2 linked regions of the Homo sapiens genome follow. The protein of the gene in region 1 interacts with the protein of each later gene in a pairwise test. Each region holds a gene or a part of one and is shown in the gene's direction. Other genes may lie near its edges. The genes, in order: BAZ1B and SMARCA5.

Evidence for each region.
Region 2: the proteins of BAZ1B (region 1) and SMARCA5 interact in binary tests that used the Homo sapiens proteins (3 or more experiments, as listed by UniProt).

The regions. Positions count from the first base shown.
Region 1 is NC_000007.14:73,473,665-73,477,587, reverse strand, and holds part of BAZ1B (tyrosine-protein kinase BAZ1B), read left to right. Parts: coding exon 1-720; intron 721-3,923. UniProt on the Homo sapiens protein: Atypical tyrosine-protein kinase that plays a central role in chromatin remodeling and acts as a transcription regulator. Involved in DNA damage response by phosphorylating 'Tyr-142' of histone H2AX (H2AXY142ph).
Region 2 is NC_000004.12:143,523,619-143,527,541, forward strand, and holds part of SMARCA5 (SWI/SNF-related matrix-associated actin-dependent regulator of chromatin subfamily A member 5), read left to right. Parts: intron 1-748; coding exon 749-849; intron 850-1,832; coding exon 1,833-1,933; intron 1,934-2,662; coding exon 2,663-2,842; intron 2,843-3,923. UniProt on the Homo sapiens protein: ATPase that possesses intrinsic ATP-dependent nucleosome-remodeling activity.

The DNA.
Region 1 (3,923 bases):
TACCAGATGCTCAGTATCCTATTACTGCTGTGTCCCTTATGGAAGCCTTGAGTGCAGATAAGGGTGGCTTTTTATACCTTAACAGGGTGTTGGTCATCCTCTTACAGACCCTCCTACAAGATGAGATAGCAGAAGACTATGGTGAATTGGGAATGAAGCTGTCGGAAATCCCCTTGACTCTGCATTCTGTTTCAGAGCTGGTGCGGCTCTGCTTGCGCAGATCTGATGTTCAGGAGGAAAGCGAGGGCTCAGACACAGATGACAATAAAGATTCAGCTGCATTTGAGGATAATGAGGTACAAGATGAGTTCCTAGAAAAGCTGGAGACCTCTGAATTTTTTGAGCTGACGTCAGAGGAGAAGCTACAGATCTTGACAGCACTGTGCCACCGGATCCTCATGACATACTCAGTGCAAGACCACATGGAGACCAGACAGCAGATGTCTGCAGAGTTGTGGAAGGAACGGCTTGCTGTGTTGAAGGAAGAAAATGATAAGAAGAGAGCAGAGAAACAGAAACGGAAAGAAATGGAAGCCAAAAATAAAGAAAATGGAAAAGTTGAGAATGGGTTAGGCAAAACTGATAGGAAAAAAGAAATTGTGAAGTTTGAGCCCCAAGTAGATACAGAAGCTGAAGACATGATTAGTGCTGTGAAGAGCAGAAGGTTGCTTGCCATTCAAGCTAAGAAGGAACGGGAAATCCAGGAAAGAGAAATGAAAGGTAAAATTTCATGCTGAGAGAAAAGGGGAAGCTCTGTAGAAGATAGTAAAAGAAAGGAAATTACTGAGGTAATGGTAGGGTCTCTGTTTGTTTACTTATTTCTGTATGTAATAACCCAGCACCTATTGGTATGTATTTTATTTTTTATTAGTTCTGTTGATAATTTCATATTTCAGCTGGAGTGTTCAGCCTGGCATTCTGATTAGTTAATAAGTTAATGTGATGTTGGCATCTTTTCTGGGTTCAGTAAAGGACCAAATCTACAAATAGAAATAGTGGAAACAACATAGGACTTGGGAGTTGACTGACCTGGGTTCAGGTTCTAGCTCTGACTTAGCTGTACAGTGTTCCTTTGGGCAGATTACTTATCCGTGCCTCACTTTCCTCATATGCTTGATAAGATTGTTGTAAAATTGATTGACAAGGTATTTGAAGCCCCTAGCACGGTCACCAACTCAGATAGTAATCTGTCCTTTAAGATTTAAGAACTTAAAAATTTTGGGCTTTGATGGCTCCATCGAATCTGAACTTTTAAAAAGCAGCTTTATTAAGAAATAATCGACATACAGTATAATTAGTTCACTTATTGTGTATAATTTAGTGTTTTCAGTAGAGTCACAGATAATGTACAACCATTGCCAATTTTGTAACATTTTTATCATCTCAAAGAAACCTGCTACCCATGAACTGTCATTACCCCATTCGCCCATCCTCCCCAGCCCTGAGCAACCACTAGTCTACTTTGTCTCTATAGATTTGCTATTCTAGGCATTTTCTCTAAATGGAATTGTATAATAAATAGTCTGTTGTGACTTTCACTTAGCATAATGTTTTACATGCTACAACATGAATGAATCTTGAAAACATTATGCTAAGTGAAAGAAGCCAGTCACAAAATAGACCACCTCTATTTAGTTCTAAAACATTTTTTTTTTTTTTTTTTTGAGATGGAGTCTCGCTCTGTCACCCAGGCTAGAGTGCAATGGTTTGATCTTGGCTCACTGCAACCTCCGCCTTCTGGATTCAAGCGATTCTCCTGCCTCAGCCTCCCGAGTAGCTGGGATTACAGGCATGCGCCATCATGCCTGGCCAATTTTTGTGTTTTTGTAGAGATGGGGTTTCACCGTGTTGGCCAGGCTGGTTTCGAACTCCTGATCCACCCGCCTCAGTCTCCCAAAGTGCTGGGATTACAGGCGTGAGCCACTGTGCCCGGCCAGCCACCATGCCGGGCCAGCCACCATGCCTGGCCCCAAAACATTTTTAAAAGAAAACCCAAAAGTCACTCACTCTTCTCCCTTGTCCACATCCCCCAGCAACCACCAATCTGTTCTCTGCATCTATGGATTTACCTATTCTGGATATTTCATGTAAATGCAATCATATAATATGTAGCCTTTTTATGGCTGGCTTTTTTCACTTAGCATGTTCTCCAGGTTCATCCATGTTGTAGCATGTGTTAGTACTTCATTCCCTTTTATGGCTGGATAATATTCCATTGTTTGGATATACCACGTTTTGTTTCTCATTCATCACTTGATAAACATTTAGATTGTTTTCATCTTTTACCTATTATGAACAATGCTGCCATAAATATTCATGTATGAGTTTTTGAGTAGTCATATACTTAAATTTCTTTAGAGTAAATACCTCGGAATAAGATTGTTGGGTCATATGATTATGTTTAACCATCTGAGAAACTGCCAGACTGTTTTCCAAAGTGGCTGCACAATTTTACATGCCCACCAGCAGTGAATTAAAGGTTCTGACTTTTCTCCTTCCTCATCAATACTTGTTATTTTCTGACTTTTTGATGATAGTCATACTAGTGGGTGTGAAATGGTATCTCATTGTGGTTTTGATTTGCATTTCTTTGATGGCTAATGATGTTGAACCATCTTTTCATGTGTCTCCTGGCCACCTGTGTATCTTTGGCGAAGTATTCAGATCATTTGCCCATTATTAAATTGAGTTATCTGATTATTATTGAGTTGTAAGAGTTCTGTATATATTCTAGATACAATTCTCTGTCTGATACCTGGTCTACAAATATTTTCATCTATTTTGCGTGTTGTCCTTTTACTTTTTTTGGGGGAGACGGAGTTGCGCTCTTTTTTGTGCCCAGGCTAGTGCAGTGGCGTGATCTCAGCTCCCTGAAACCTCTGCCTCCTGGGTTCAAGTGATTCTCTTGCCTCAGCCTCCCGAGTAGCTGGGATTACAGGCGTGTGCCACCACACCTGGCTAATTTTATATTTTTAGTAGAGGTGGGTTTTCACCATGTTGACCAGGCAAGGTCTCGAACTCCTGACCTCAGGTGATCCGCACGCCTTGGCCTCCCAGAGTGCTGGGATTACAGCTGTGAGCCACTGCACCTGGCCTGTCCTTTCACTTTCTTAGTAGTATCATTTGAAGCACAAAAGTTTTTTAAATTTGATGAGGTTCATTTTATCTATTTATTCTTTTGTTACTTATAGATTTGGTGTTAGATTTAAGGATCTTTTGCCAAATCCAGGGTCATGAAGATTTACTCCTGTTTTCTTCCAAATGTCTTAATAGTTTTGCCTCTGAAATTTAGGTCTTTTATTTTCAGCTAATTTTTATAGTGTAAGGTAAAAGTCCAGCTTTATTTTTTTTTGCATGTGGCTCTCCAGTTGTCCTAGTGCCGTTTTTTGAAATGACAAACCTTTCCCCATTGAATGGCCTTGATACGCTTGTCAAAAATCATATGACTGTAGGATACGTTGGCTTATTTCTGGACTCTGAATTCTATTTCACTGATCTGTATGTCTGTCTTTATGTAAAAGCCACACTGTCTTGATAACTTTGCTTTGTAGTAAGTTTCGGAATAGGGAAGTGTTGATCTTCCAGCTTGTTCTTTTTCAACATTTTCTTTTTTATTTTATTTTGAGACAAGGTCTCATTCTGTCACCCAAGCTGGAGTGCAGCAGTGTGATCTCAGCTCACTGCAGCCTTGACCTCTTGGGCTCAAGTGGTCCTCCCACTTCGGCCTCCCGAGCAGCTGGGACTTACAGGCATGTGTCAGCACGCCTGGCTAATCTTTTTATTATTTGTGGAGGCTGGTATTGAACCCCTAAACTCAAGCAATCTTCCTGCTTCAGCCTCCTAAAGTGCTGGGATTACAGGCCTGAGCCACCAAACCCCGGCTTGAATAGTTCTTTCATTAGAAAATGTATATTCCTTTTAAA
Region 2 (3,923 bases), on another chromosome or scaffold:
CTTGAATTTCTGAGGAATGCTTCTATCTTGGAAGGCCGCTTATCCTTTTAGCAAGCATGTGGTTTTGGTAGAAATGAAGTTACAAATTAGATTCAGCGGTCTCAACAGAGGCATAACGTGCCTTTTTCTAAATAAGATGAAAATATTTGTTGAAAGTGTCAGAATTGGGGAGTAAGTATTAATAGTTTTACTGAACCAAGCCCTTTAGAGATTAATTGGCAGTATTAAAACTTTAGAAAATCAGTTTTTAAGGGGGTAGTATATCTGATTCTCTTAGGATGTAGAATTTAGATGTGTATTTAAAAATTTTTTTGATGAATCCGTGGTCACTGCTTAAATTTCTGAGTCCTTATGCTGCAGCTTTTGCTCGAAGTTACAATTTTAAACATGTGGTTTCTGGAACTTTTTTTTCCTTGGCAAAAAGATTTTTAAAAAGGTACACTTTAAAATTCAAATAATGAGATTTTCTGACTACATAGTTCTTGAAATTTGACTATCATATTTGAGTTTATTGGGTTCTGGTTAATGTATCGTACTGGTGTATTTTAATAACTAATGTATATTTTAAATAATTATTTAAAACATTGCAGATTTAAATGTACTCATATTTTCTACTGTCCACTGGTTGATGCCTGTTAAAAATTTAATTTTGTGGAATCTTGGTCAGCCACTTGACTATGATGTTTAAACAGTAGCTGATAATTAAAGCCAAAACTCAAATCAGGTTATTTTATTTTCATCTTAACAGTTACCGACACCGTAGAACAGAGCAAGAGGAGGATGAAGAGCTATTAACAGAAAGCTCCAAAGCAACCAATGTTTGCACTCGATTTGAAGACTCTCCATCGTGTATGTTAAACACACTTGATTTTTTTAAAAAATTGCCCTTTGAGATCTCCTTTGGTTAATGTTTTGGATTTGTGTTGGCTACTATTTGTGAAGCAAATTTTTAGTAGTCTTAGATGTTTATTGGTTATGAAATAAACTTCAGATTTTGATGGAGATGAGAGCATATTACAGGATAGTAGTGCTGTATTTCAAAGTTATATAAAATGTCATTGTGTTTGTTATTGCCCTGAAGTATATGTAAATCTAAGGATCGTTTTGCTTTATATTTGTCCCACATAAGAAAACTAATTTATTTTAAAAAAGGTACTTCATGAACACATTTGCTTACTTCTGATGTTTTTATATTAATTTAATTTTTTGTGAAATGTATTTGTTTATTGGTTAGCTTTTTATCCTCAAGTGTTTTTCAAAAGGAGATGGAGGGCTACACTGTGTACATATTAAAAAAGAAAAATCAGGTGACCGTTATGTATATTTGGTAATTATTCTGGGGAGCAAAATAAGTAGTATACCCTGAAAGAGAGTGCATTGGAATGTATAAGATATATTGGACAAGTAACTTAGGAATTTCCTATTTCTTTTTTTTTTTTTTTTACTAGAAAGAAAATAAAATCCCCAGATAACCTGTATCTGGTCTTTATGAAAGCTGAAAATACTTGGTTAGGAACACTTGGTTTTTCATTAAAAAGACGAGAGGCCAAAGAGTCTCTCAGACCAGTATATGGGTAACGTAAGAACTGAGTTGTTGGAGTGGGTACTCTGATGCCCGCAGTCATGTTTCCCGCACTTGATTATCTTCCATGTCCAGCTTTTCCACTTCAGACCATGGCAGCTACCTCTAGTATTTTGGAACTTGCAGAGTTCCTATTCAAGAATCCGTTAGTAATGAAAATAAAGTCAGTAGATATGTGTAGGCTTAGATGAAGAGATTGCCTTGTATTTCTTGTCTTAAAATGCCTATTGTGCTTTTCTTTTGTTCTTAGATGTAAAATGGGGTAAACTGAGAGATTATCAGGTCCGAGGATTAAACTGGCTCATTTCTTTGTATGAGAATGGCATCAATGGTATCCTTGCAGATGAAATGGTATGTGTTGGTAGTTTTTTTTGAAGGGTATGTTTTGTATTGAAAATATCTTATACGTTGATAAAAGTTTCTTACAGTCTACAACTGTTAGCAAATGGATCCTCTCAGAAACTAGTATAAGCAGCTTGCCTTAGTTGCATAAGTGTGATCTGTATTTTAATTGTGAGAAATTTCCATCGCTGAAAATATGATAAATTTAAAAAGAATACATTTGAGAAACATGTTTTTGGATGACTTTTATAGTACAATGATTTATTTGCTTCCAGTTTTGTAAAACAAAAGTGAGGTCATTAATTGTTTATAATTGATAAATGTTTTTTCCAGGTGGTAGCTTGTACAATTCTTAGAAAACATTTATCTTTTGTTAACTACTAGTTATGTAATGAATGTTTAAAAAAGTTTCCTTATTGCTATAATGCTAAAACGTTTAATTGGTTGGAGAAAGTATGAAGTCAAAAGAAATGTGTTTCAATGCTAGCTCTGCTAGATGACTTTGGGAATGTCACTTAAACGGGGCCTTATGCGGGTGATAATAATACCTCCTTTAGAGACTTGTGAAAATTATATGACATAACACTTACAAACTTTGATATATGTTAAGTTTTTGCCATTTATTAACTGTTATAAATATGTAGCATTTCTTTTGAACATTTCTATATGTTGGGAGGTATAATTGTGAAATAATATTTTCATTTTTCACTGCTTCATGGTTATTTTGAAATCTTTCAGGGCCTAGGAAAGACTCTTCAAACAATTTCTCTTCTTGGGTACATGAAACATTATAGAAACATTCCTGGGCCTCATATGGTTTTGGTTCCTAAGTCTACATTACACAACTGGATGAGTGAATTCAAGAGATGGGTACCAACACTTAGATCTGTTTGTTTGATAGGAGATAAAGAACAAAGAGTAAGTTTCTAGTATTTCATTACATTTTTGAGGCTAAAATAATTTGAATTCAGGCTTGGGTATGGGTATAGCTGGAAGAAGGATAAATGAGACGGGATCTTCGCAAATATTAGTATTTACAAATGTAGCATTGTCTTGGTGGATAAAAAACAGCACTTTGGGAGGCCGAGGCGGGTGGATCATGAGGTCAGGAGATCGAGACCATCCTGGCTAACACAGTGAAACCCCGTTTCTACTAAAAACTCAAAAAATTAGCTGGGTGTGGTGGCACGCATGGCCTGTAGTCCCAGCTACTTGGTAGGCTGAGGCAGGAGAATCGCTGGAATCTGGGAGGTGGAGGTTGCAGTGAGCCGAGATGGCGCCACTGCACTCCAGCCTGGGCAACAAAGCAAGACCATCTTAAAAAAAAAAAATCATACTGGGAAGAAGACATTAGAAATGGTAGAAAGCTGTAAGACTGTAGTTTGTTTCTCTCCCTTTTGGGAGTGGTTGTATAAAATCATTGGTTGTGCTCTCATTAGAAGTTATTTTCTTGTTTTTAAAAGATATTTTGAAATGTGAGTTGGTTGGAAATTTAAGGAGCCACATTTTTAGATGAATGTGTGTAGTGGTAATAGTCACAGAATTAGAGTTTTTAAAGACGGGTTGAGTCATATATAGTAATTTGGTGATTTATTATGATATTTAACAAAATAAGTTAAAATTTCGATCAGTTGACAACATCCTTGTGGGAAGAAGAGATGGAAATAATGACATTAGTATATAAAGCTCAGATTTGGAAATTTATTCAGACTCTACTGAATAGCTGTGTACTTGTTTTTTATTTCCTCTTCATTTACCTGTGAGTGATAAGTCTATATTTTTCTCTCCCTTTCTAGTTATGTTGGATATTTTAAGTTATCAATTTTTGTTTGTTTGTTTGGGAGCCCAAAGAGTGGTAATTACTTAACCAGTCTTTGCTTCAGTTTCCTTACCTTTAAAATAATACTATTAGGAATGTGTTAATACATTTATAAACCTGAAAGGAATGCAGATGCCTACTACTGCTAACTATCTTTCCACCCTCTTCCTTTCTTTATGT